Homo sapiens: one gene and its partners. The protein of the gene in region 2 purifies or fractionates together with the protein of the main gene of each other region. This does not show direct contact. Each region holds a gene or a part of one and is shown on either strand. Other genes may lie near its edges.

Evidence for each region.
Region 1: the proteins of SLC40A1 (region 2) and WDCP purify together in Homo sapiens (affinity purification with mass spectrometry; one large-scale study listed by BioGRID and IntAct). This does not show direct contact.
Region 3: the proteins of SLC40A1 (region 2) and RDH11 purify together in Homo sapiens (affinity purification with mass spectrometry; one large-scale study listed by BioGRID and IntAct). This does not show direct contact.
Region 4: the proteins of SLC40A1 (region 2) and NCR3LG1 purify together in Homo sapiens (affinity purification with mass spectrometry; one large-scale study listed by BioGRID and IntAct). This does not show direct contact.
Region 5: the proteins of SLC40A1 (region 2) and NCKAP1 purify together in Homo sapiens (affinity purification with mass spectrometry; one large-scale study listed by BioGRID and IntAct). This does not show direct contact.
Region 6: the proteins of SLC40A1 (region 2) and CLINT1 purify together in Homo sapiens (affinity purification with mass spectrometry; one large-scale study listed by BioGRID and IntAct). This does not show direct contact.
Region 7: the proteins of SLC40A1 (region 2) and EIF4B purify together in Homo sapiens (affinity purification with mass spectrometry; one large-scale study listed by BioGRID and IntAct). This does not show direct contact.

The regions. Positions count from the first base shown.
Region 1 is NC_000002.12:24,033,496-24,037,631, forward strand, and holds part of WDCP (WD repeat and coiled-coil-containing protein), read right to left. Parts: intron 1-4,136.
Region 2 is NC_000002.12:189,574,017-189,578,152, reverse strand, and holds part of SLC40A1 (ferroportin), read left to right. Parts: intron 1-2,832; coding exon 2,833-2,992; intron 2,993-4,136. UniProt on the Homo sapiens protein: Transports Fe(2+) from the inside of a cell to the outside of the cell, playing a key role for maintaining systemic iron homeostasis.
Region 3 is NC_000014.9:67,681,766-67,685,901, forward strand, and holds part of RDH11 (retinol dehydrogenase 11), read right to left. Parts: intron 3,440-4,136; coding exon 3,250-3,439; intron 1-3,249. UniProt on the Homo sapiens protein: Retinol dehydrogenase with a clear preference for NADP. Displays high activity towards 9-cis, 11-cis and all-trans-retinol, and to a lesser extent on 13-cis-retinol.
Region 4 is NC_000011.10:17,354,404-17,358,539, reverse strand, and holds part of NCR3LG1 (natural cytotoxicity triggering receptor 3 ligand 1 precursor), read right to left. Parts: intron 1,890-4,136; coding exon 1,539-1,889; intron 1-1,538. UniProt on the Homo sapiens protein: Triggers NCR3-dependent natural killer cell activation.
Region 5 is NC_000002.12:182,954,688-182,958,823, forward strand, and holds part of NCKAP1 (nck-associated protein 1), read right to left. Parts: intron 2,910-4,136; coding exon 2,770-2,909; intron 1,907-2,769; coding exon 1,775-1,906; intron 1-1,774. UniProt on the Homo sapiens protein: Part of the WAVE complex that regulates lamellipodia formation. The WAVE complex regulates actin filament reorganization via its interaction with the Arp2/3 complex. Actin remodeling activity is regulated by RAC1.
Region 6 is NC_000005.10:157,789,407-157,793,542, forward strand, and holds part of CLINT1 (clathrin interactor 1), read right to left. Parts: intron 2,590-4,136; coding exon 2,297-2,589; intron 1,246-2,296; coding exon of another isoform or gene 1,219-1,245; exon of another isoform or gene 1,194-1,218; intron 1,035-1,193; exon of another isoform or gene 162-1,034; coding exon of another isoform or gene 108-161; coding exon 1-107. UniProt on the Homo sapiens protein: Binds to membranes enriched in phosphatidylinositol 4,5-bisphosphate (PtdIns(4,5)P2). May have a role in transport via clathrin-coated vesicles from the trans-Golgi network to endosomes. Stimulates clathrin assembly.
Region 7 is NC_000012.12:53,019,466-53,023,601, reverse strand, and holds part of EIF4B (eukaryotic translation initiation factor 4B), read right to left. Parts: intron 3,693-4,136; coding exon 3,576-3,692; intron 1,797-3,575; coding exon 1,742-1,796; intron 1,110-1,741; coding exon 975-1,109; intron 1-974. UniProt on the Homo sapiens protein: Required for the binding of mRNA to ribosomes. Functions in close association with EIF4-F and EIF4-A. Binds near the 5'-terminal cap of mRNA in presence of EIF-4F and ATP.

The DNA of each region.
Region 1 (4,136 bases), about 170 Mb from region 2:
TTTGGGAGGCTAAGATGGACAGATCACTTGAGCCCAGGAGTTCAAGACCAGCCTGGGCAATATGGCAAAACCCTGTCTTTACAAAAAATAAAAAAGTTAGCCAGGCATGGTGGTACACACTTGTAGTCCCAGCTACTCGGGAGGCTGAGGTAGGAGAATCACTTGAACCCAGGAGGCAAAGGTTGCAGTGAGCTGAGAAGGTGCCACTGTACTCCAGGCTGAGTGACAGAGACAGACTCCATCTCTAAATAAATAAATAAATGAAGGACAGTTGTATAAGTTATGTGTCTAACTTATTTTGTTGTTAAGCACTTTGGGAGGCCAGAGTGCATGGATTGCTTGAGCCCAGGTATTGGAGAGCAGCCTGGGCAACATGGCAAGACCCCATCTCATAAAAAGAAAATAAAACTATACATCACTGTGGTAGGATGAACCACTCAAAGAATATGTCCACTAATATTTTTAAATGAAGTCACAGGAATAAACTGTAAAAGTCAAAACCAACTAATCATTTATTTCACGTCTTATGAAATGTAATTTCTGAAATTACAGGGGAAACTATTTCTTGCTTTTGATTATTGTGTAACTTTTACTTTTCTCATTACAAAAGGAATAAATGATCAATTTTTTAAAAGTATAATAGGGCCGGGTGTGGTGGCTCACGCCTGTAATCCCAGAACTTTGGAAGGCCAAGGCGGGTGGATCACTTGAGGTCAGGAGTTCGAGACCAGCCTGGCCAACATGGTGAAACCCCATCTCTACTATAAATACAAAAATTAGCTGGGTGTGGTGGTGCACACCTGTAATCCCAACTACCTGGGTGGCTGAGGCAGAGAATCGCTTGAACCCAGGAGGCGGAGGTTGCAGTGAGCCAAGATCGCGCCACTGCACTCCGGCCTGGGTGACAAAGCAAAGCTCTATCTAAAAATAAATAAATAAAATAAAAATATAACAGAAATATATAATGCAGACAGTAAAGCCCCCAAAATTCTATCCTCCAGAGATAACTACTGACAACAGCTTGGTTGGATGACATAATTATAAACTAAAAAACTGAGGAATTGAAAGGGCAACAAAACTTTTTTTTTTTTTTTTTGAGACAGAGTCTTGCTCTGTTTCCCAGGCTGGCGTGCAGTGGCACGATCACAGCTCACTGCAGCCTCAACCTCCTCAGCTTAGGTGATCCTCACACCTCAGCCTCCCAAGTAGCTGGGAAAACAGGTGGGTGCCATCACGGCTGGCTAATTTTTGTATTTTTCGGTAGAGACAGGGTTTTGCCATGCTGCCCAGGCTGGTCTCGAACTCCTGGACTCAAGTGATCTACCCATCTCGGCCTCCCAAAGTTCTGGGGTTACAGGTTTAAGCCACTGTGCCTGGCCAAACATGGTTGTTTTAACCTTAGTTTTTAAAAATATAAAATTTTACATTTATAAGTGTTTTAAAAACAGAAAGATATATTATTGTTTGCAAGTAAAATAGCCTATTTAAAGAAAATTTTAAAAATAATATATTTTTATATTAGATTTTTTTTGGATTAGATAAATGTACAGAAAAAATATGGAAATATTTACATCTAACATCTAATAAAATATTTAGCTATATCTGTGATTTTCTCTAAAGGTTGGATTATGGAAAATTTTTACTTTCTGTAATGGTAAAATTTTTTTCCTCAACAAGTATATATTACTTTTGTAATTAGGAAAAAAAAATACTATGCAGCTGTGGAAAAAAAGATGAAAAAAGAGCTCTGTGTGCTGATATAAAGAGCTCTCTAGGACATACTATTAAATGGAAAATGAAAAGGTGTGTATATCACCTTCCCTTTTGTGTAACAAAAGGGGAAATAAAAATACATAACTAAAGTCTGCTAGTATCTGCATAAAGAAATAAAAATAAAAATGGTTACCTAAAGGAGGAAAGGAGAACAGGCTGAAGAAACATAGGGTAGGAATAAGAGTTCTTGGTATACAGTTTTTATTAAAATACAGTTTTGCTTTTTAAACCAAATAAATGAATTACCTATTAAAAAAAGACAGAAGAAAAAGAAAACAAACTCTTTAAAAAGTCATAGTAGGAAAGAAATCCAAACCAGTTATCACATTTATAAATAAAATAATTTTAAAAAAATCAAAACTATGGCTGGGTGCAGTGGCTCACACCTGTAATCCCAGCGCTTTGGGAGGCTGAAGCAGGAGGACTGCTTGAGCCCAGGACTTCCAAACAAGCCTGGGCAACATAGCAAGACCTTGTCTCTATAGTTAAAAAAAAATTTTTTTTAATTAAAAAAAAATTAGGCCGGGCGCAGTGGCTTACACGTGTAATCTCAGCACTCTGGGAGGCCAAGGCGGGCAGATCACAAGGTCAGGAGATTGAGCTCATCCTGGCCAACACGGTGAAACCCCGCCTCTACTAAGAATACAAAAATTAGCCAGGTGTGGTGGCACGTGCCTGTAATCCCAGCTACTTGGGAGGCTGAGGCAGGAGAATTGCTAGAACCTGGGAGTTGGAGGTTGCAGCGAGCTGAGATCGCGCCACTGCACTCCAGCCTGGTGACAGAGACTCCGTCTCAAAAATAAATAAATAAATAAATAAATAAATAAATAAATAAATAAAATAAAATGCTCCTCACAGCAAAGCTGTGACTTAAAAAAAAAAATTAAAACTCTACTACTGAAAACTCCATGTAGTTAATGTGGCAAAAATCCTCTTTAAAAAAATGTAGGGTTGGGGCCACATGCAGTGGCACACACCTGTAATCCCAGCACTTTGGGAGGCTGAGGCAAGACTATCACTTGAGCCCAGGAGGTCATGATCAGCCTAGGCAACATAGCAAGATCCTGTCTCTGCTAAAAAAAAAAAAAATTAGCCAAGTGTGGTGGCATGTGCTTGTAGTCTCAGCTGCTCAGGAGGCTGAAGCAGGAGGGTCACTGATCAGATTGGTGACATACGAGGAAAAGGACAGCCTTATACATAGCTGGCGGGCGTGTGATGATGCACTGTTAAGTAAAAATCTTTGAGAGGCAATCTGGTAACTCAATTAAAAGTAGAAACACATATACTCTTCAAATTTGCATTTCTACTTCTGGGAACCAATCCAACAGAAATAAAGGTACTAATATGAATGGATACATATAAGAGTACTACTGCAGCATCATTTGGAGTAGCTAAAAACTAAAAACAAAGTGAATGTCAATCAACAAGGGAATGGCTAAATAAAGAGCATACTCTCAGTATGAAGTAAAGAGTGCACCATATCACCCTATTTTTGTAAAAACAATGACAAACCATTCCCACATACCTATATATCTATGTACACAAAGACCTGTGTTAGATCATGTGACCATGGAGAAAGTCACGAAAGGATCCATGTTAAGCTGCTGGTTACAGCGGATTAAGGGGAAGATGGGGCAAGGCCATATTTTATATAGGAGGAAAGTGTCCATGATAAAAACATGTATAATATGATCCCACTTATATAATGTTTGGACATGCATGCATAAAGAAATGCATCAAAACATTTTAAATGAACATAACCTTTTCCTTTTTCTTTGAGACGGAGTCTCGCCCTGTTGCCCAGGCTGGAGTGCAGTGGCACAGTCTCGGCTCACTGAAACCTGTGCCTCCCGGGCTCAAGTGATACTCCTGCTTTCCCAAGTAGCTGGGATTACAGGCGCCCATCACCATGCCCAGCTAATTTTTATATTTTTGTTAGAGACAGGGTTTCACCACATTGGCCAGGCTGGTCTCGAACTCCTGACCTCAGGTGATCCACTTGCCTCGGCCTCCCAAAGTGCTAGGATTACAGGCGTGAGCCATGGAGCCCAGCAACATAACCTTTTTTATAACTGGAGGAGTATCTCTATTATATAAGGAAAAGGTTGTCACAATGAAATAACATGATTTTTTTTCTAAATATAAATTGCCCGAATTAGTGCAGACATTTATTTTTCCACGTCATGCACCTGATAAAATCATGATGCAGACTGATATGTGCGCCTATCTGGTTGGCAGGCTAAAAACCAACCAACCTGCAAAGGTGTACCAACTTGCCTGTAACATAACATGCCCAGCTTAGTGAAGCTCAGTTAGAGCACCATCTTCCTCATCAATACGTTTCTTGCAGTACTCACCGGCTG
Region 2 (4,136 bases):
TTATGTTTCTGTATTATGTGTGTGTGTATATGTATTATATATATATGCATTTTCCGTCCCACCCTGCCAAGTCATGATTTCTTATGCACTGAACGTAGGGGCATTAGAGTAGAAGGTTGCCTCAGGTTAGTTTTGTGTGGGGTTGAATGCCTTTTATTTCTGACTTCATTTCTATCTGCCAATGGATCAATGCATTTTACTCTATATTATCAAAATACAATATAGTGTAAGAAGTGGATCCTGGCTAGGTGCAGTGGCTCATGCCTGTAATCCTAGCACTTTGGGAGGCAGGAGGATTCCTTGAGCCCAGGAGTCTGAGACCAGCCTGGGCAACATAGGGAGACTCTGTCTCTGCAAAAAAAAATTTAAAAATTAGCCAGGTGTCATGAGACACACCTGTAGTCCCAGCTACTGAGAGGCTGAGGTGGAAGAATTGCTTGAACCCAGGAGTTTGAAGCTGCAGTGAGCTGTGATCACACCACTACACTCCAGCCTGGACAACAGAATAAGACCCTGTCTCAAAAAAAAAAAAAAAAAGTGGATACTATTGTCAAGGAGCTTATAATACAATTTAGTATGGGCTTTAAAAAAGATATCTAATAACAAAAAGATGACAGTGTAAGACAGTGAAAAAGAGGGGCCAGTTGCTTATATCTGATAACATGATCTTACAAACTCTCTCCATTTAAACCCCAATATGTCTGCATTTCTCCAGCCCTCGTTTCCCAGAGGCTCACTTTGCTCATGGAGGCCTTTGTTGCCACCAGCTCCATCCTACTTTATATTTCCTCATAGCAGCACGTGCCCTGTGCTAGATTTGCTTTTGGTCTGTGCTCACTGGAATGTGAGCTGCATGAAAACCTTTTGTGCGCTGCTGAAGCTCTAGTGCTTGCAAATGTCGGGTACATAGTAGCCACTTAGTAAGTATTAAGTGGATTGAGGACCATGATCATTCATTGACAGTTATTAGGTTTGCCTTCAGCTCTCAGTCCCGTGGGGGTACATGGACACATAAATAGGTCATCCAAGTTTAGTGAGAATTGGTGGGAAGGCAAGAAATGGAAATAAGGAAGGATGGGCACTTGGTCAATATTTACATAGACTTTACCCAAATATTGGGCTTTTTGTAAACATAGAATCTGTTGCTTCTTAAAGCCTAAGCCCGTTGGAAATTGGGGTAATGTGAGCAATTTCTTTCTTTCCATCAAAGAGGTGGTATGGCATGCAAGAAAAAGCAAGATTCAAAACTTTAATAGCATTTGTCTTGATGTCTTGCTTTAGAGGACTCTAAGACAATTAAAAAATACAATAAGAGTAAGAAAAAAAGAAAGAAACAACAGTATTAGAAAAGTGTTTCTTAACCTGTATGTTAAGAAAGAGAAAACTCTCTGACAGAGGCAACCTATCATTTGGGACATGTGTGTGTTTTTGTCTTTTCCTTGGGAGCTATTCAGAGGAATGGAGATTAGAATAAAGTATCTCCCCTCTCCCTATCCCATTTTATCCTAATCAAATCTAAATTTGCTTTTCAGGTTAAAGATTAAGTAACAGCTCCACCCCCTTGCTGTTGTGACAACTCAAAATTACTCCAGGCATTGCCAAATGATCCCCGGGGAGGTGGGGTGGGGGTAGGAGAAGCAAAGTCATCTCTAGTTGAGAACTACTGGTCTACAGGAAGTTTTTTTGTAAATGATTGCTAACATGCATCAATTTAAGTTTTGAATGTATAAAATTATTATCTTGGCTTCATTAAATTTTTAAAATTATTTGACATACCAGGATAGTATTTGCTTCTAATACATGGATTTTTTCATGAAGATGTTAACAGACTTTGGGAAGAACTAGGAGTAGAAGTATTTCTGTAGGGTCAAATCTATGAGGCCTGGAATTTGGTTTCCTATAGGGATTCCCAGAGATAAGTTATGATGGAACATGGTTGTCCTCCTTAATGTTAATTTCAGAAGTCAGGGATGGAGCCTAAAATCTCATAATAAGGTCCACTGTAGATTTTTTAAGACATTAATTTGCCTAATTCACTTAAAAGTTTCTGTTAAATCACATTTCACGGTAATGAACTCCAAAATTCCCTATATTCTCCGGAGTTTGTGTGAAGAAATAAGTAGCTTTTTCCCCCTTTCAAAACTCATCTGTATTAAAATGTTAACGTAACTACTTACTTAGGCATTTAAGTTTATTTCTGACATCACTGTTTATGCAGTGCCAGAATTTGCTGTTACTACTCCTCTTTCCAATCGCTCTGCTGTTTTATGACTTTCGAATTATGACTTTATGAAATCTCATAGGTTTTAGGATATTAGACATGAAAGAAAACTTGGAGATCATATGGTCCATTCCCATCATTTTACAAATTGGAAAACTGGCTTTTTCTTGATGCTCAAGGTATACTAATGTTTGTGAACTGTACTGTAATTGATTTCTGGTTCAATAGCAAACTACTTTATGCCTCTGCAATCAAGATAGGCAAATTCCAGGCCCCAGGAGAAACCTGACACACAGGAGAACACGTTTTTGTCTCAAAAAGCCATCTTGGGTCTGGAAACTGCATTTTGTTTCTAGAATGAAAAAGAGAATGTGCGGTTCATTAATATCATGCCTTTTCAAGTTTACTTAATAATTGGGCAAGAATATTTTCCATTGTGCTGGGATGAACGTTTTAACATCTGAGCAGTATTCAATCTAAGAGTAATTACTGACTTTGAAAGTCTCATAATGTAGCCAGGAAGTGCCCTTTTGATAAGGAAGCAACTTCCTGAGTACAATAGACTAGAAACGAAAAATATTCCATCAAAACATTTTCTCTTTTCATTTAAGGGAGATCGGATGTGGCACTTTGCGGTGTCTGTGTTTCTGGTAGAGCTCTATGGAAACAGCCTCCTTTTGACAGCAGTCTACGGGCTGGTGGTGGCAGGGTCTGTTCTGGTCCTGGGAGCCATCATCGGTGACTGGGTGGACAAGAATGCTAGACTTAAAGGTGAGTGTTGTTATATAATTAAGCCCTTTTATTCATGGGACCAATGCCTGAGCTACCTCTGTAGCAAAGGAAACAACAAACTAGGAGAGAAACAACCAGGGAATGTCTGCATGCCACACTTGAGGGAGGAGGGCTTAGATGGCACCACCTCTGGATGGAGGGTCCCATGGCTCCCACACAAAGTTGGGATGCCTGGACATTGACCTAATAGATTTTTTTGTATCTTTGGCTGTTCATAAATTTCATATGTTAATGATTAACCTTGTAGCACTTCTCTGAGAACCATGTTAAACATTAAAAGTTTGCTTAACTCAGGCTTCCTAACTGTATCTTGTACTGGAGTCCCTTTAGTGTGATGTTCCTGAGACAGCTTTAACATCTGTTCTTTGGTTACTATGTTTCATGTAAGAGTATGTATAAGGGAATTGAAAACTAAGAATAGCTTCAAGGCAGAATAGTTGAGCCTGGATCACAAAGAGCTGAATTATAAATTTTGTAGGGAAAAAGAAGAAATAATAATATCTTGATATTTATTCTAAGCATTAGTACTGAAATCATGTCATTTTATACAGGAAAGAAAGTAATTGATCAATTAAATTTTCCAGTATATAAGGGAAATATGGATGATCATTCAGGGTAAATTTTCTTGAATTGCTCAGTTGATAATGCCAAGACCTGACCATGCCTGACTTAGATGTTGGCAAAAGACTGAGGTTTCATTCTTTCAGTGCGAGATGACTGCTTCTGGACACAGAGCAACAGGCTTATCAAATTCTAGGACTTGATGCTACTAGGAAAATGGTCAAGGTGAACATATTTCTGTTTTTAGAATGAGTAGACCAGAACACATATAGAGAAAAGTTCTGTAATCTAGAAAAAAATTTACTTCTTTGCATCATTATACATAGGAACATAGGAATATTATACATAGAAACTTTTAATCTAATGATTGTTGAGCACTGCAATCATAGATTAGGAAAGAATATTGAATTGGATGAAGAAAAGTGTGGTAGGATAACAATTTCCCACTTATCCTATATAATCAACTCATACATTACTCTTTATGAAAAATGTTTCCTGATACCTCTGGGCTGAATTTACCATTTCTTCCTCTGTGTTCCCATGAGGCTTTGTTACCACCTCT
Region 3 (4,136 bases), on a different chromosome or scaffold from region 2:
ATAATAATTATAAAATAAAATAAAAATAGTTCAAAACAGATCACAGACCTATGTAATGCTACAACTATAAGACTATTAGAAGAAAACATAGGGGTTGCTATAGTTTGAATGTATCCCTTAAAAAATCACATGTTGGAAACTTAGTCCCTCTGCCTTCATGAACAGATTAATTAATAAAAGCTTTGCCCTCATACCTGGATTAATGTCACTATCATGGGAGTGGGTTTGTTCTTGCTTGCCCTCTCACCATGTGATGCCCTCTGCCATATTATGACACAGCAAGAAGGCCCTAACCAAATGCCAGGCACCATGTTCTTAGACTTCTCAGCCTCCGGAACCATGAGCTAAGTAAATTTCTTTAGAAATTACCCAGTCTGTGGTATTCTGTTTAGTAACAGAAAACTGTCTTTACTAAAGACAGTAGTAAATCTTTGTGACCTTGGGTAAGGCAATGATTTCTTAGATATGACTGCACAAGTGACAAAAAATAGATAAACTGGACTTCATCAAAATTTAAGTTTTACATTTCAAAAGATACCATTAAGAAAGTTAAAAGACAACCCACAGAATGAGAGAATATTTGCAAATTATATATCTGACAAGGAACTCGCATCTAGACTATTAAGAACTCTTGTAACTCAACAATAAAAAGACAATTATCCAACTTAAAAATGGGCAAAGGACTTGATAGACATTTCCCCAACAAAGAAACAAATGAACCAAAAAGCGCATGAAAGAATGTTCAACATCATTAGTAGGAAAATGAAATGAAAATAAAAACAAGATATTCCTTCATACTCACTAGGATGGCTAAACTCAAAAGGAGAGACAATAACAAGTGTTGCTGAGGATGTGAAGAAATTAGAATACTCATAGACTGCTGGTGGGAATGTAAAATGGGGCAGTCATTTTGGAAAAGTTTGGCAGTTCCTCAGCAGTTAAACACAGTTACCATATAACCCAGAAATTCCACTTCCATGTACCCAAGAGAAATGTCCACACAAAAATTTCTACACAAATGGTCACAGCAGTATTATTCAAATAGCTAAAAAGTGCAAACCCAAATGCCCATCACCTGATGAATGAATAAATAAGATGTGGCAAATCTATACAATGAAATGTTATCCAGCAATAAAAAGAAATGAAGTACTGACACATGCTTTAGCATGGATGACCCTTGATAACATTAAGCTGAGTAAAAGAAGTCAGTCACAAAAGGCCACATACCATATGATTCCATTTATATGAAATGTCCAGTAAAGGCAAATTCTTAGAGACATAAAGCAGACTAGTGGTTGCAGGCAGAAAGAAGAGCCAGTGCAAAAATCTTAAGGCTTCAATCAAAAGACTTTTATGTTCATTTCTTGATGGTGGTCTACACGGCTGCTGTTGGATCTTCAAAATGAATTAAGAATCCATAGCACAGGAAAGGCTCTTCAAAAGTCAATCCAATAGTAAGTTATGGATTTAGAGCTGACTTTCTTTAAACCACTCAGTCAAAACCAAGATAAAGGGTTATTTTTTTTTTTCTTAAAATCTCTAGGGAAGAAGAATCCAGTCACTCTTGGAAAATCAATCCAGTATACTATATAAATCTATCTTCTTATACTTCAGAACCACATTTCCAACTATCTGCTATACATTTCTACTTGCATGCCTTATAGATAACACACATGCAACATGTACAGAGCCAGGTTTGTTACACAGTGGACAACTGTTACTCTTTGGCTGAACATTCTACTTTGTTTCGGCAATAGCAACCTGATTTCCTTCTGCAGAATCACCTTTTCCCCTCAATATAGTTTGAAGAGAGCATTAATAAAGTCCCTGTTTGCCTCTAATCAAAAGAGTAAAAATGAAGGGATAGGAGGAAGGAGATCCAATGCTTCCTCCCTAGAGAATGGATGATAAGCAATACAACCTAAACACTAAAGATAGCTGGCATTCGCTCACTCTAGCAGCAATGCCCCGGCTGGCTGACTGCCACTCTGACACTTCTTAGCCTGGCTCTTCAGTCTTCCCTTTCAACCTAGGGGTCCCTCCTCTCCCTACTAATATTTTAATAAATTTCCTTCTTGCTTAAGCTAGACAAAGTCCCTTTCAACTGCTTTGGAATCCAAGAACCCTAAGTTCCACACATTACTTTTCCATGTCTGCTGTCTTAGTTAATGTCATCATCAACCTCATTCAGGCTTGAAATTCAGGTTAGCAAAGCCTCCCTCATCCCCTCATTTAATTAATCATCCAGTGATAAAAATTCTGCTGCTTCAGGGCCTCTTTCACATTACCATTCCTTTCATTACAACTTTCTGAAACTCTCTCTCTCACTAGGTTAATTATTCATTCATGAAACAAAGTTGCTAAAGCACAGACCAGATTTTGTCTGTCTACTGAAACAACTCTGGGGCTCCTCCACAAGGCTGGCATTATAGGCCTCTCATAATCTGTCTGCCTTTCTTTCCAATCTTAATGCTATTTTCAGCTACTTCCTTAAAATTTCAGGTCATTTCAACAATAACCTGAAGTAGAGGTAAAAACATGTTAAAATTTTGATCTTATGTGATGCCTGGGATTTGCTTCAAAATAATATGGGAGAAGAAAAATATGGAAAGGGGTAGAGAATGGGGATAGGGCAGAATTGGCCATGGGTTAATGGTAGCTGAGGCTCCATTATATGCAGGCTCAGTGCACTATTTTATCTAACCCTGTGTTATATTCAAAATTCTCTACATTTAAATCATTTTAAATGTCTTCGCTTATTTGAGAGGGGAGTCCATAGTATTTCAATCCTGAGGACAATAGAGAAATGCAGATTCAAATTCTTTTTTTTTTTTTTTGAGGCGGAGTTTCACCTGACCTTAGGTGATCTGCCCACCTTGGCCTCCCAAAGTGCTGAGATTACAGGCGTAAGCCACTGCGCCTGGCCTCAAATTCTTTTTAAATTCTTTTTAATGTAAAACAATAGAATTAGGAATCCAAAAAAGAATAAAGAAAACTGGACTGACATAACAAAGACAGGAAGAAAACAAACAGAATGCATAATTATCAGTATAAAAGATGGCATAAAATCAAATGTAGCAGTTATTACAAAAGAGAGTCAAATTCCCCTACTAAAAGGTAAAAACTCTAGAGTTAAAAGACAAAAGCTATATGAGACAATGTACTTTTAAAAAAGGGTATACCCAGACAAACCCAAATTATCTCCTTTGAGCAATAAATCTCATCTGCAAAAAGAGATAACATTCATACCTGAAATGATTCCCACTTAGAATCTCAAGACCTTCTGTTAAGGCACAGTGCAGGCTGGTCTGGGCTCCCTGCTGAGGAGTCTTGATGAAAAAGGAGAAAAGCCACCACATCCATCTCATGAAAGATGAGTGCCGAACCAGTTCAGATTGGACTGTGCCAGGGTGTACAGAATACGTCGTAACGCCAGAGCCTGGTTGGGGGTGGCATGAAGAGAGGGTAAGACAGGACTTGATTTTGCAGAATAGCCCAAAACAGAAAAGGATGTAAATAAGCATGTGACCTTCACATATGGACTCTTTTGCCCATGGTGACATCAGAAGTACTGCTCACAGTAATTTATACTTCCATCTCACAGATCTAAGAAGGCTCTAGAGTAGACAGTGCTAAGGACCTCTGTGTATTTCTGACTGGAAACTCAAGTCAGGAATCAGCAGAGCCAAGACTCATCCTCTCAGCAGCACTTAACATCGTTGACCACCCCCTTCTTTTTTAGAGATGGGGTCTCCCTATGTTGACCAGGCTGGTCTTGAACTCCTGGCATCAAACAATCTTCCCACCTTGGCCTCCCAAAGTATTAGGATTACAGGCATGAGCCACCACACCCACCCCATCCCCTTCATTTTTTTGAGACAGGCTTGCTGTGTTGCCCAGGCTGGAGTGCAGTGGCATGATCTTCCTTCTGCCACTGCCTTCCAGGTTCAAGCGATTCTCCTGCCTCAGCCTCCCAAGTAGCTGGGACTACAGGGGTGCGCCACCACACCAGGCTAATTTTTGTATTTTTAGTGGAGACGGGATTTCATCATGTTGGCCAGACTGGTCTTGAACTCCTGACTTCAAGTGATCTGCCCACCTCGGCCTCCCAAAGTGCTGGGATTACAGGCGCCCAT
Region 4 (4,136 bases), on a different chromosome or scaffold from region 2:
AACTAGATGGTCAAGGTCAACATCAACAGTCATAAGTCATGTGATTTGATGTGATGAAAATGGCAGTTTACCTCTGCGATGTTCCTCCAAAAACCCATAACCCCAAGTCCAATTATGAGGAAAACAGCAGACAAATCCTAACTTAGTGACATCCTGCAATATACCTGACCAATACCCTCACCAAACTGTCAAGGACATCAAAAATAAGGTCTAAGAAATTGTCACAGCAAAAAGGAGCCTAAGAACATATAACAATTAAATGCAATGTGGTATTCTGACGGGATCCTGGAGCAGGAAAAGGACATTAGGTAAAAACTAAGGAAATATGAATAAATTACACACTTTCATTATAGTAAAATGTCAATATGGGTTCATTAATTATATCAAGGTACCATACGAATACAAGATGTTAATAACAGGGGAAATGGTATGCAGGGCGTGAGTGATATGAGAACTCTCATACTATTTTTGCAATGTTTCTGTAAATCTAAAACTGTCCTTAAAAAAAGTCTATTAATGTCTTTAAAAGCCACTGTTGGCCAGGCATGGTAGTTCATCCCTGTAATGCCAGCACATTGAGAGGCCCGGGCACAAGGATCTCTTGAGGCCAGAAGTTGGAGACGAGCCTGGGCAACACAAGGCCCCATCTCTACAAAAATGTAAAAATTCGCCAGGCATGGTGGCATGCAACCGAGGTCCTAGCTACTCAGGAGGCTGAGGCAGGGGGATCACTTGAGCCCTGGAGTTTGAGGTTACAGTGAGCTATGATTGTGCCATGCTCTCCAGCCTGGGCAACAGAGGGAGACCCTGTCTCCTATGTAGACCCTTTATATAGATATATAAAGCCTAGAAGAACAGTGGCTATATATATACGGCCACTGTCAGTTGGCCGTATATATAGCCACTGTCACTGTTATTCCTCTGTCAGTTGCAGAGGAAGTGAATCCTAATTAATATGCCTCTCACTCCCAAAATTACTACGGACAAAACATTCAAAGTCTTATGTACAATTATGGAGGGCCCATGCTGGGCTGAATTATGTCCTCCTAAAATTCTTATGTCCTCCCAGAATTCCCAGTATCTCTGAATGTGACTGTATTTAGAGATAGGTTCTTTAAAGAGGTAATTAAGTTAAAAATGGGGTTATTAGGATGGGCTCTGATCCAATATGATTGGTATCCTTATAAGAAGAGGAAATTAGGACACAGATATAGGCACAAAGGAAAGACCATGTGAAGACACAGGGAGAAGATGGCCAGAGAAGAGAGGCCTCAGAAGAAACCAATCCTGCTGATGTCTTCATCTCAGACTTCTAGCCTTCCAAAAGTGTGAAAAATAAACATCTGTTGTTTAAAGGCATCCAGTCAATGGTATTTTGTTATGGCAGCCTTAGCAAACTAATACAGCCACCAAGCTCATCCATGTATTATCAGACCATTTTATAATACAGGAAAGTGGAGCTCAAAGAGGTGTGTGGGTTTTGTTGTTGCTAACCCCAACACCATGGGAACTGTAGGGCACTGCCCCGAGACACTCACCCACAACTTCAAGCTGGACTGTTCCCTGTGCCTTCAGAGGGGTGACCACCACCTCACATCGGTACTCTCCTGCTTCCTCCAGCTGGATTCCAGGCAGCCGCAGTGAGGCGTCCCCACTCTTCAGCCTCCATGGAGACACAATGGCTCCAGGTCGGAATGCCTCTTGGTGATCTCCAAAAAATTCAAAGACTTTGACTTCTTTGTCAAACGTCAGACTCTTCCAAAACCAGGTGATACCCATAGACGTGATGTTGAGGGGTTGGGAATAAAAGATATTGCAGAATATGGTGACATTGTCATTCAGGGGTGTGATCTGAGTCCCCCCTGCCATCATCTCTACTTTCAGATCACCTGTGGCAATAAGAGGACACAATGTTCAGTTTACCAATGTATGAACATCTTTTTGAGATGTGCTATGGACTGAATGCTTGAGTCCTCCAAAATTCATATGGAGGCCTGACCCCCAGTGTGATGGTATCTGGAGGCAGGGCCTTTGGGAAGCGATTAGGTCATAAGAGGAAAGTCCTCACGAATGGGATTAGTGCCCTTACAAGAAAAGACATGAGGCCAGGCACGGTGGCTCATGCCTGTAATCCCAGCACTTTGGGAGGCCCAGGCAGGCAGGTCATGAGGTCAGGAGATTGAGACCATCCTGGCTAACATGGTGAAGCCCCATCTCTACTAAAAATACAAAAAATTAGCCAGGCGTGGTGGTGCACACCTGTAATCCCAGCTACTCGGGAGGCTAAGGCAGGAGAATTGCTTGAACCCAGGAGGCAGGGGTTGCAGTGAGCTGAGATCATGCCACTGCACTCCAGCCTGGGTGACAGAGCGACACTCTGTCTCAAAAAAAAAAAAAAAAAAAGAAAGAAAGAAAAGAAAAGAAAAAGACAAGACATGAAGCTGGGCCTGGTGGTTCACACCTATAATCCCAGCACTCCCAGAGTCTGAGGCCAGAGGATCGTTTGAGCCCAGGTGTTCCAGACCAGACTAGGCAATATAATGGGACCTTGTCTCTACAAAAAAATAAAAATAAATTAGCCCAGCATGGTGGTTAGCACTTGTAGTCCCAGCTACTTGGGAGGCTGAGGTGAGAGGATCCCTTGTGCCCAGAAGTTCAAGGCTGCAGTCAGCCGTGATAATGCCATTGCACTCTAGCCCGAGTGACAGAGTGAGACTCTGTCTCAAAAACAAACAAATAAATAAATAAATAAGAAAAGACATGACAGAGAGATATGTCTCTCTCCACCACGTAAAGATACAGCAAGAAGGTATCCTTCTATAAACTAGAAATGAGGCTCTCACCAGAAACCAGATCATCCACACTTTCCTCTTGGACTTCCCAGCCTCCAGAATCATGAGAAATAAATTTCTGTTTAAGCCACACAGTATATATCTGTTATGGTAGCCTGGCAAGACTAAGACAGGACATTTTTCCATTTCATTTATTTAGATTTTAAATTTCTTTCAGCAATATTTTACAGTTTCCAGAGTATATATTTTCTGTTTCTTTCGTTAAATTTACTCATAAGTATTTTATCTTTTGATGCTATTGTAAAGAGAATTTTCTCTTTTTTTTTTGATGTTTTCCTATTTATTTATTTAGAGACAGGGTCTCGCTGTGTCACCCAAGCTGGAGTGCAGTGGTGCTATCACTGCTCACTGCAGCCTCCACCTCCTGGGCTCAAGTGATCCTCCTGTCTCAGCCTCCCAAGTAGTTGGGACTACAGGCACATGCCACCATGCTCAGCTAATTTTTTCATTTTTTGTAGAGATGGAGTCTTACTAAGTTGCCCAGACTGGTCTCTAACTCCTGGGCTCAAGCAATCCTCTCATTGCCTCCTCAAGTATTGGGATTACAGGTATGAGCCACTGCGACTGGCTAGATGTTTTCCATTTTAGAACAGTAGGTTGCTAGCAAGTTTACGCTTATACCTATTCCAACAAAAAGTGCAAGGACAGTTCAAAATATTACATTTGCTATTTCAAAGAAGAGTACAACTCCAAAGAAGTCAGACTCATTACTAACAATGCAGAGCTAGACATCTATATTTAGATAAATGTCAGAAACCGAATTCCCCTTGTTGCCATCAAACATGTCCTTTCATTAGTCACATCCAACATATCTAAATAAAGTTTTCAAAATTAATGTTAACAAAAATGTATCCAAAAACCTGCCAACTTACTCAAAGATTTGTGCAAGTCTATTTTTTAAAATAATACATTAGGGAAACGCGGTGACAAGCTTTCTGTTCTATGTATCAAAGCAAAAACAGACTTGACCTACAAAATGAAGATAGGGTCAACTGTAACCAAAAAAACAGTATGCTTCCCCCTGGTGGCCAACCAAGAAATGGAGAAACCAAGGATATGAAACAGCCAGGCCACCTAGTTGTATTGTCACTCTTAAAAACGAAAAGTGACTACCAAAAAAAAAAAAAAAAAAAAAAAAAAAAGAAGAAGAATTGGGGGGTCGGAGGGAGAAGGGAAAATATCAAAAACACTAACATGTGCTTAAAAGGAATACAAACCTGAGTGCCAGACTACATAAATTTAGAAGATTTAAATCAACAAATCAAAATTTAGAAGGCAAATTTG
Region 5 (4,136 bases), 6.6 Mb from region 2:
AGGCAGGAGAATTGCTTGAACTTGGGAGATGGAGGTTGCAGTGAGCTGAGATTGTGCCACTGCACTCCAGCCTGGACGAAAGAACAAAACTCCGTCTCAAAATAAATAAATAAATAAATTAAATAAAATAAAAAATCTTTCCAAGGTAAACAAGCTGTTCCCCTTGCCTTGATCCTAATCACTAAGTAGATGTTTGGTTAAAAAAAAAACTGCTTCTCTGTGGATTAACAAAGCAGACTGTTTACAAGGAAAACAAGGGAGCTGTACACTGAACTCTCCCTTCCACCCACCAATGTCCCACCTCTAACCCACTTGAGAATAATAAACACCACAAGGCACAATGCCCCTTTGGTCTAAGTTCTAGGGCATTCTGGGTTTTACTGTCAGGATGCCTGACTTACTAAGGAGAACAAAAGACAGTTCATCACCAGACTCTTCTCAAGTCAACTGATAATTTAACACTCAACTTAGTGCCACTTTATATACTGTCATATTCTGTTCTCTAATTCTTTTAGTCATCTCACCAGCTACAGTTCTATCTTTATCTCATTATTACCTAGAGTACTTAACACATTGTTAAGCATATAGTGCAAATACAAACACCACCTGTTAATGACTACAGAAACTTTGAAAACCTTTTGGCAAAATTTTGTTTTATAAATTGCTTCAAGGCTTTGAAGAAAAAAATTGTCAAATAAATAAAAATTTTCATGAATAAATATTAATAAATAAGGATGTAACTTCAGAAAAAGGTTAAAACAATATATATAAAGTTGAAAGGTTTCTGACTTATCAATGCACTATTTCATATACATACATAAAATATATATTCATATATAACAGGAAATTCTAATTAGAATTGAGAATTCAAGAATCTAGAATTCTATTGGCTTATTTAACAGCAACATGTGAATTCAGAAAACATGTAAGGGTTCATCTAGTCCTCAGGTCTTCAAACATTTTACTGTGACCTACTGCATGACACGCATCTTAACACTGCAAGTCAATACACATGCATACATGTAACTGAAACATTTCACGAAGCAATATATATATTTAATGCACACAGTGTACTGGGTTTTTTTTCCTATTTTTTCTTCCTCTTGTCCTTTCTTTCCCTCCCACTTTTCTCTAAACTTTGACTACAACCTAATAAACTGATTTCATGAACCTACTGGGTTGCCACCTGCAAGATGAAATACATTGATTTGCTCCAATATTCTCACTTTGTATATAAGGAAGCTATGACTCAGAGATATTAACTGGTTTGCCTGGTGTTACTAGTTAATACTAATAGGTATGAGAAAAGAATCTGGGTATCTTCAGTAATTTTCAGTTCACTATTCTTTGCATTTCCCAGTTCATTATTCTTGAGACAGAGTCTTGTTCTGTCACCCAGGCTGGAGTGCAGTGGCATGATCTTGGCTCACTGCAAGTGTGTCTCCCGGGTTCACGCCATTATCTTGCCTCAGCCTCCCGAGTAGCTGGGACTACAGGTGCCCACCACCACGCCCAGCTAATTTTTTGTATTTTTAGTAGAGACGGGGTTTCACTGTGTTAGCCAGGATGGTCTCGATCTCCTGACCTCGTGATCTGCCCACCTCGGCCTCCCAAAGTGCTGGGATTATAGGCGTGAGCCACCACGCCCGGCCCGGTTCATTATTCTTAACACTAATCCAGTTCTACTAATGCTTTTCCTTATAAAACACTGTATAATTAAATAACAAACTCATTACTGAGTCAACAAACAAAAACAGTCAATATTCTTTCTTACTTGGTAAAGCGTATTTCCAGATGAGAAGTCAAATATTCTCGTGGGGTAAAGGTATGTTCCCATACCACCATGTTTGGTACATAATTTATAGAGAAGCATAACTCAGAAAGTGCAGTGTGCAATTTATCAAGGCTGAAAAAAATTAATAAACAGTTAAAATGTTCACATGTCATCACAGGCAATACAAAATTAATTTTATAAATATATCAACCTTATTTGGAGATAATGCTTAGAGAATTCGACTTTTTATTCTCCTAAACTGAGAAAGTTCAAAATCTTTAAGGTTATAACTAACACATAAGAGCAATATTCTAAAGATGGCGTCATTTGTTTCTACCTTTAGGTAGTAATGAATATACTGACTTAATATACAAAGGTAGAGCTTATTCTGCACTCATAAAGATAATCACGCCCAATTCCTGAAGTACTTTCTGTTATGAGAGAAGGAAAGTTGTCTATAAAAGGGCAATGGCTTGCTCAATTTAGCAAGAAAGTAGGAACTATACTTTAAACAAAAAATATTTACCGAATTATTACCCACCTACACCTCCCCTCCAAACAATGAAGCAAGCAAAGATCCCTGAATGCTACCTGGTCTGTTATTTCTGTTTTATAATAATGACATTGGGTATGTTCTAATATATCAAAAACATGCCAAAATAAAGTCTCCACTATCTAACTTTAAATAAATTAAAAATTACAGATTGCTTATAATGTAACACACAAAATTTTTTAAACATATAATTGGCCTTCAGTACTTAGTATAAAAAGACAAATATCAACTATTACATATATTTTCTTCTAAAGGCCAAAATCTGTATTTTGAGATGAAATAAGCAACTAACAGGTTAATTAAGCTCAGAAATATTTTTTAAAATGGCTGGAAAATGAAGAATATACAATTATTAGCATTTCCTCAGTACTAATGTCAATAGAAAAAAATGAAATAAATATTTTACCTGGAGCAAAAAGGTATAATATAAGTGGATACTTACTTGGTCACAACCAGCCTGTTTTTCCTCATGCTCTCAACACCTGGTTTCTCCCTTTCAGGTTCCCCTTTCTTACCAGTCTGCTTTTTTGATTTCTTATTCACTGCTTGACTGATAGTTTTGGCACAATGCTTGGGTAGCAACTAAATTTAGAAAAGAATGAAATCTTACATTACACCAATTACTCTGAAAGCATACTAACTATTCAAGCAAACAGTAGCTGAATCCAGGCTGTGTTGCAAATATCACAACAATATTAAAAGACAGAAATATAAGTGAGATACAGAGCTTACTTAGCTAGCTTGGGTAATGCACATAGCTTGGTGAAAACAGAAACGGGTAGATCTTGGGTAAATCTTGTGTGAAGAAACACGTCATAGAGTAAATTCATAGACGCTTATTTAAATTACTATTAAAAAGACAAGTAAAAACATACCAGGCAAGCAAGGAATGAAAAAGAATATTTCACTGGAAGGATTAAATGGCCTTTGGAAAAAAACTGTGTAAAGATATGATGGTTCAGAGCTGTAGTTAGAACTACTATGTGGTGGAGCATAACGTGTAAGGTAAAGTACAGAGGTTTCAACTATTAGGAAGGGCCTTGAATGCCAAGCTAGAGGTTGGATTGTAAACTGCAGGCAAAAAGACAGCGACAATTTTTTAAAATAGCCACAGCATGAGGAGACATTTTCTTTTCTTTTCTTTTCTTTTGAGAAGGAGTTTCACTCTTGTTGCCCAGGCTGGAATGCAATGGCACAATCTCAGCTCACTGCAACCTCTGCCTCCTGGGTTCTCCTGCCTCAGCCTCCTGAGCTGCTGGGACTACAGTCGACTGCCACCACACCCAGCTAATTTTATTTGTATATTTTTAGTAGAGATGGGGTTTCGCCATGTTGGCCAGGCTGGTCTCGAACTCCTGACCTCAGGAGATCCACCTGCCTCGGCCTCCCAAAGTGCTGGGATTACAAGCGTGAGCCACCATGCCTGGCCATGAAGAGGTAATTTTCTAAGGATAACTCTGATATTGGCAGAAGAAAACACTGAAAAAGGAAAATTGTAACAGAGCTGCTAGAAATAGTTCAGACAAGGCATGAAAAAGGGATATGAAATAGGCAAGTGTAATAAAAAAATTTTAATGGGCAGATCTGAGACAGACTTCTGAGATAAAATTGAAAGGATTCAGTAACTTAGATGTGTGAGAGAAGCAGGAATCAAGTATGACACAGAGGTTTCTACCTAACACATTGTTAAGACCAATAATTAAAACAAAAAAACCACACAGGTACAAATCAGAAATAATTGATTTCACTTGACAGGTAACAAAGCAGGCAAATGAGAAATAAGAAATAACATTTTAGGTAGAAGGAGAG
Region 6 (4,136 bases), on a different chromosome or scaffold from region 2:
GAAGGCTGCATACCAGGTAGTAAGTTGTCTAGGCTGATGTTTACACTGGGGTCAGACCAAGTAGAGGGCAAGGTTTTGCTGACTGATTTCTGGACCATATCTGTATTCTGATTATAGAGAGGATTAGGCTTCTGCAGCACTGTGCTAACATTTTGCAAAGGCTGGAAAATAGAAAAATGCTCTAAAAATTAAGCATCTGTTCTATAAAAATTATCAGATGGCAATTTAATCACAACAATGAACTTCTGAAACAAAAAGAACCACTAATGTTCTATGCTAATGTCTTCAATACCCTGAATCATTAGCTTCCCAAAGAGGTTCCTCTGAAGTCCCAATCAGGTTTGAGGTGGATAAAACCAACAACTTACCTACACTAACAATTATTCTCCCATCACTCAAAGTCTAGAAGCCACCATCCCTGGCAAATGCCCAGGGGAACTACCGATTTTAGGTTAGTACAGCTTTAAGGAGATACACAAGTGGACATTTATTCTTTCAAAACAGAATTCAGAGGCCAGGCGCAGTGACTTATGCCTGTAATCCCAGCACTTTGGGAGGCTGAGGTGGGCAGATCACCTGAGGTCAGAAGTTCAAGACCAGACTGGCCAACAGGATGAAACCCCATCTCTACTAAAAATACAAAATCAGCCAGGCATGGTGGCACATGCCTGTAGTCCCAGCTACTTGGGAGGCTAAGGCAGGAGAATCACTTTGAACCAAGGAGGTGGAGGCTGCAGTGAGCAGAGATCGTGCCACTGCACTCCAGCCTGGGCGACAGAGCGAGACTCTGTTTCAAAACAACAAAACAAAACAGAGAATTCAGGATATGATGTCTCACATTATACAAGGATATAAGGCAAAACTGTCAAAAAGCAATTTATATTTCACATATCCTGACATTTTGCTGTTCTGTGTATACTTTTACTATCTAAAGTGAGCAACACTAACTGAACTGATTAATATATGGAACAATGTAGGAGAAAGAAGAAATTCAGGAGAAAGAAGCAGAGGTTCCTAGTGGTTATTGAGGATAACTGAAAAGGACAGAAAAAAGGAACAGGAAGAGGAAGAATAATTAAAAATGTACCAATGCAAAGAATTATGACAGTTACAATTAAGACTGCAAATAAAGTAGACTGACTTTATGCTTAACTCATACATTAGGTCTTATTTCTGTTACATAGAGCAGTCACCTTTCTGCTTCTTTCTTCTTTTCCTTCATCCTAATACCCCAAAGACGAGAATCTACACATTAAAATGAGTAATTAGCATCATAAACACATATTCTCAATAGTTTGAGTCAAAAATAGCAAGTTCCTGGTACCATTCAGACACATATTTTCCAAGCCTGCACTTGTCTGAATTCTAAGCTAGTACTAGGTAATTCGGATTTAACTATAAAATAGTGAATTAAGAAGCTCCCATTTTGGTTGTTTTTCTTTATGAAAATGAAAGTTGAAAGATGAGCCTATAAAACATTTATATAATGTAGAGCAGGTCCAGAATTGGGAAGAACATTCACCATTCGAGAGAATGATTTTCCATATTAGCAATAATTATTTACAACCAATGAGTGATATTTCTTTAGGGACATGACCAGAAATTTTACTAAGTGGATACTTGCCGTAAGTGAAACAATATCTCTATTTCTTTTTCTTTTCCTTTTTTTTGAGACGGAGTATCACTCTGTCGCCCAGGCTGGAGTGCAGTGGCGCGATCTCAGCTCACTGCAAGCTCCACCTCCTGGGTTCACGCCATTCTCCTGACTCAGCCTCCCAAGTAGCAGGGACTACAGGTGCCTGCCACCATGCCTGGCTAATTTTTTGTATTTTTAGTAGAGACTGGGTTTCACCGTGTTAGCCAGGATGGTCTTGATCTCCTGACCAAGTGATCCACCCACCTCAGCCTCCGAAAGTGCTGGGATTACAGGGGTGAGCCACTGCGCCTGGCCTATTTCTTTTTCTTAAAGACAATTTAAAAAAACTATCAAGTACCAATTTGTTGTAACAATAAATTTTTGCCATGTTCCTCCTCTGTGCAAAGGCACCATGCTTGGCTTTACAGTGACTACAAGATGGGGGAGAAGGTCTTGCCTTCCAGAATGCAAATGACTATGCTAGGGGAGAGTATGAGGTAAATGAAATGTGCAAATGCGTATATATACACACACAGACACATATTCATACACATAAAAAGGACTTGCTTATTTTTCTGTTTTATACTAATCTATCATTCAATGAGTTAGAGCATCTCAAAGATTATAAATAACAAATTCCAAGGGAACCAGACAACTTACCTGTGATCTTGACATAGGCAAACCAAGTCCCACAGTGTTAGTGCTCATCATAGAGAAATTCATACTCTGGGAAGATGTCATGGTTGCCTGGGACGAGCCCATAAGATCAAACAGGTCTGAAGAATTTGAGGCAGCAGGAGGTGGGCCTAGAGCTGATTGTGAGCCACTAACAAGTTCTACCGCTGGCTGTGAGGCACTGCCAAAGAACTCGCCACTGGAAGCAACAGGGCCTGATGGGGCTTGGTTGAAGGCACTCCAGTCACCAAAGTCTCCATTCCCACTTGTTGCTGTTACTAAGACAGAAATAACTCTAAGGGTAAGAAACTTCATGGAATGCACAGAACAAATGTAACAATCTATGAACTGAAACAAATTAGAGCTGATCTGAGTCCCCCAGATTAACATCTGCAGGTACCATCTCCATCTGGACAGTATTCTTTCTCATAAATATTACACGAGAGTTAACAAGGTGGCAAAGAAAAAACAAACCTCCCAAATATAACGTAAAATCCATCTCTTGGCAGCTCTGTAGGTGACACATTGAATTTACCATAAAAAAAAATGGCCAGGCATGGTGGCTCACGCCTGTAATCCCAGGACTTTGGGAGGCCGAGACAGGTGGATCACAAGGTCAGGAGATTGAGACCATCCTGTCTAGCACGGTGAAACCTCATCTCTACTAAAAATACAAAAAAATTAGCTGGGTGTTGTGACACACACCTGTAGTCCCAGCTACTTGGGAGGCTCAGGCACAAGAATCGCTTGAACCCGGGAGGCGGAGGTTGCAGTGAGCTGAGATTGTGCCACTGCACTCCAGCCTGGGTGACAGAGCGAGACTCCGTCTAAAAAAAAATGAAGAATTTCTCACTTATTTGGCCATACTTCCACTGACAATACAAGGGCTATAACCTTAGCACATTGCCTGCTTCAACTGGGACCATTTATTTACAATCAAAGAGAGGAGGAAAACTCATGTAATATTAAAAAACACAACCAAGCCAGAAACAAGCAAAACCCTATCATACTTTGCAAGTTTAAGGTTGAATGCATAAAATCCATACTCTTAATCACTACAGTCTTATCAATTAACCTCTGATCAATTTTTATATTGAAAGGAACAGATAAATACGCATAAATGGAAGTTGAAAAAGCAAAATGTGAAGAAAGAGCTACATAAAAACCGTCATCTGAAAGCAAATAGTAAGTATGTACCTTCCAAGTTAATTAACACCATCCCTTTGCATTCCATGTTCATTTACAACTTGGAAATACATTTTGTCTAGCCTAAAAAGTGACCAACCACTACAATACCATGTCTCATTATGCTAAATATCAAAAGAGAATAATAAGGTGAAGTCTTTAAAATTACATTCTTCTATTACCATATTAAAATGTAAGCACCCTTGAAAGAGAAAATAATTCACTTAGAAACTCCAAGTTCTACTAACAATTTAATATAAAAATTGGGCTAATTTCTTTACCTCAGGGTTTTACTAATACACGTCTTTGATCTTTTTTTTTTTTTTAAGTGACTGCATTAAGAGTTTTACAGTTAGTTCTAGATATTAAACAATTTAAACTAAGGCTGCTGGATCAATGTAAACTTTTATGCTGATTTTCTATTTGCTTGATCTATAATGCAGAATATGAATGGAAACTGGGGCAAAATGTGTTGCCCCACCTGAAAACTTCATATCTGAAATGATTAATCGTGGGAGGAAACGATTTCTAGTGGGGCATATATTATTCAGAAATGATTAATCATTGTTGCAATGGTTTCAGCCCCCTGCGTAAGGTGGTCAGGTTATATTAATCACATGCATACAGATGAAGAGATGTA
Region 7 (4,136 bases), on a different chromosome or scaffold from region 2:
CAAAAAAAAAAAAAAAAAAAAAATTTTACATTTTAATTGTTTGCTACAAGCATATAGTAATGCAACTGATGGGCCAGGCGCAGTGGCTCACGCCTGTAATCCCAGCACTTTGGGAGGCCAAGGCGGGCGGATCATGAGGTCAAGAGATCAAGACTATCCTGGCCAACATGGTGAAACCCCATCTCTACTAAAAATACAAAAATTAGCTGGGTGTGGTGGCGCGCGCCTGTAGTCCCAGCTACTTGGGAGGCTGAGGCAGGAGAATCACTTGAATCCAGGAGGTGGAGGTTGCAGTGAGCCAAGGTCACGCCACTGCACTCCAGCCTGGGCGACACAGCGAGACTCCGTCTCAAAAATATATATATATATCAAAAAGTAATGCAACTGATCTTTGTATGCTGCTCTTCACTCAGCAATCATGCTGAACTCTTATTTCAAATAGCTCACTTTGTAGAATCTGTTGGATTTTTTTTTTTGAGACAGGGTCTCGCTCTGTCACCCAGTCTAGACCTCCTGGGCTCAAGGAGTCCTCTTGCCTCAGCTTGCTGAACAGCTAGGACTGCAGGTGCGTACCACCACGTCAGCTTTTTCTTTTTCTTTTTGGTAGACAGGGTCTTGTTTTGTCGCCCAGGCTGCTCTCAAACTCCTGGCCTTAAGCAATCCACCTGCCTTGACCTCCCAAAGCGTTGGGATTATAGCCACCATGCCCAGTTTGGGTTTCTTTATAAACAATTGTCTCCAAAAAAAGAGAAATGTCTGTCCCTTTGTTTGGTTAAGTTTTCAAAAAAAATTATTAATTTATCAAATTCGTTTCCTGCATCTATCAGTTCTTTCAGATACTATCCAAAATTTTTCTTAATCTGCTTTCCTCCTTCTATCTGTTAATGTGATCTGATCATCTGTAACACATTTGTCCTATTACTAAATAGCCTCCCAAAGCACAGAGGAAGCTAACTTCATAAAAACAAACTTACTGTCTCCAAAGCTATCATCACCTCTTCTAGGTGGGTAGTCATCAAAGCTGTCTGTAGCAGGACGAGCCCTCCAGTCTGTATCTGTTTTGTCAGAATCCCGATTTCTATCACGGCCAAAAGAACGATCATCCCTGTCTACAGATACATTAAAACAAAAACCGTAAGTTATCTCATAAAAACTTTGCCCAATATTTCTCACACATAGAAAACCCCCATTTTACCCTATTTTTCACTTTCACGTCACACTGTCATCCCAGTTACCTCAGGCCCCATAAGTACATGCTCCAATTCAACCCCAGGTGGCTCTTTTCCTCCCGTTTTTTCCTATTGGTTTAATGCTTAGCTATCTCAAATTCTGTATGGGCCAGGAGTCCCTGAAACATATACAAATTAGGTCCCCTTTGTGACCAACGTGCTGTTAGGCAGCTAATCTATTTATCATCTATTTAATGTTCATCTAGATCAATCAGTCTTCTCAATCTTGACATGCATTTTGGGCTGCATAATTCTTTGTTGATGGGGACTGTCCTATTCCCTATAGAATTAACCCCTGGATTCTACTTATGTCAGCAGCACTCCCTCCAATTGTGACAACTACAATGTCTTCAAACATTGCCAGAAGTCCCCTGTGGGGCAAAACTGATTGAAAACTGTTACTGTAGATTCAGGCAGGCCCACCACTACCCCTATTCAAATTTTCTGGGAAAGGATGGCTTGGTGTCATCCTGGGACCATTACCAAACAGAAATCTCTACCAGTTTCCTTACCTTTATCCTGTGCTTGATCAGCAACGTCCACTCGAATTCTCCTGTTACCTAGAGACTGAGAGCATAGGACCATATTAACCAACCTTTTGCCCCATTATGCACAAATCCCTTGAGTGACCTTGAACGTCTGGGCATAGCAGAAGCACTAGGGGAAGGAAGATAAAGGAAAACACTGTAATCTAGCTAACACTCCAATTTGTGGGCTAAAGAGTCCTTTAAAAGACTTAAAAGTTAAACAAATTTAAGCTGGCCTTGAATATTAGGTCAATTATACTATTTTTACAAAGCTTAATTTCACAGAATAGAATTAACTTTTTAACTATCCAAGGTAATTTGTCAAGTGTAGTAAATTAAAAATAATTCTCACATAACTAGCTGAATAAAAGGCATATTTGGTGCCACAACAATTATTTATCAAAATTTATAGAAGCCAGGTGCAGTGGCATGTACCTACAGTCTCAGCTATTTGGGAGGCTGAGGCTGGAGGATCACTTAAGCCCAGGAGTTCAAATCCAGCCTGGGCAATATAGCGAGACACTGTCTCTTAAAAACAAAAACACCCAACACATTTATAGAGCCTCTACTACTACTATGTACCAGCAAAATTGCATAAAGCATGCTTTGTCTACAATCTTAGGTTCTTTCACTCAGTATTACCTTCAGATAAATCAGTTCTTCCAGAGATACCCTCTGACTTCCCTTTCCCACATCATTATTTATATACTTTGAACCCAATTAATTCTATTGCTGATTTTTCCTCATTTCATAGTAGAATCTACAGTTGAAGGATAACAATGATTTTTAGTTAAAAATACCCAAAACTATATTAAACACCACTATAATGAAATCTCTAGTAACAAAGTAACTCTTAACTATGGACCACAACAATATATTAATAGTTAATCTAGTAAACATCAAATAGTTAACAATTGCATGGTATTCTTTTTCTTATCCAGACTGAGTAAAGTTAGAGACCAGTAATGTTAATAAAAATCTAAAAATAATCCAGTAAGAGTAACTCTGGAACAAGATTAGACCTTCATATGCATTTAACTAAGTACATTAATTTTTATCTCTATTTCACACTGACTACAGGTTATCATGATGGTAATCAATTATGAGGCAGCAAAACTATTTCTAAGAGGTGTTGATTTCAATCATGTCATATGGCAAAATAGGACTACAGAAATATGGCACAAATGGCACTAGAAATTGCCTTATCAATAAACAATAAGGTGTTTTTGGAGTTAAAGGAGGAAAAAAGTCTTTTTTCTTCTGAGATATAAGCCCCTCAAGTCCTGGGACAGGAAAACCTTTGTGGGCAGTGTTGACAAGCAGAAGGACTAGATATTTATTGTCACTCTCCTGTAAAATATTCCTTTGTAGGAAATGTTTCCAAATCCTCTTAAATGAACAAATATACCATTACAACACTTCCCTGAAAATGAGATATGCCTTTAATACTAAACAAACTTGATTTTTCTATTTGCCTTTATCAGGCCAGATTACTTTGAAAAAGCAATGCCATAAGAGTTGAGGCAACACTGTGGGTAAATCAGTGTAAGACTTAATTAGAGACCTGGTGTGTGGTGGGTTTCTTCCACAACTTTCCACCTAAGTACCTATCTAAATTATTGGGGCCTACTGAATTTGCTGAAGTGTGACTTGCTAGATGTTCGATGTTAAGTGATACACTGTTAAATAATGCAGGCCTTTATTTGTAGATATGGGAATCTTTGAAGTGAGCCTCTCAACCTAAAAAATACCAGTTTGATCAATAAACATGAGATTTGTGAACTTACACCCCTCATATCCCCACTCTTATTTTCTTTACCTCTTCATTGAGACTCAGGGCACTGAGCAGGGAATCCAGGTCCTCAAATTCAGCATAACCAAAACCTTTCAACCTCTCTGGATTGCTGGGTTCACGTGGTAAACGCACTGCACTGATCTGAAGGAATAAGAATCAACAACAAAGTTTCCCAGCATTCTTCTTCATTTGTCATTTTTTGAGAGGACTACAAAAGCATTACTGTATGTGCATGAATTTTTCTGAATACACAAGAACATGGTTGTCTCAGGAGGAAAACTGATGCAGAGGGATAGTAGAAACTTTACTAAATGCCCTATTATACCTTCTGAATTTTGAACTGTATGAATTTAACTCTAAAAAAAAAAAAAAAAAGATTAATTCAGGCCAGGTGCAGTGGCTCATGCCTGTAGTCCCAGCACTTTGGGAGGCCGAAGCAGGTGGATCCTCTGAGGTCAGGAGTTCAAGACCAGCCTGACCAACATAGTGCAACCCTATCTCTACTAAATACAAAAAATTAGCTGGGCATGTAATCCACTGTACTCCAGCCTGGATGACAGAATGAGACTCTGTCTCAAAAAAAAA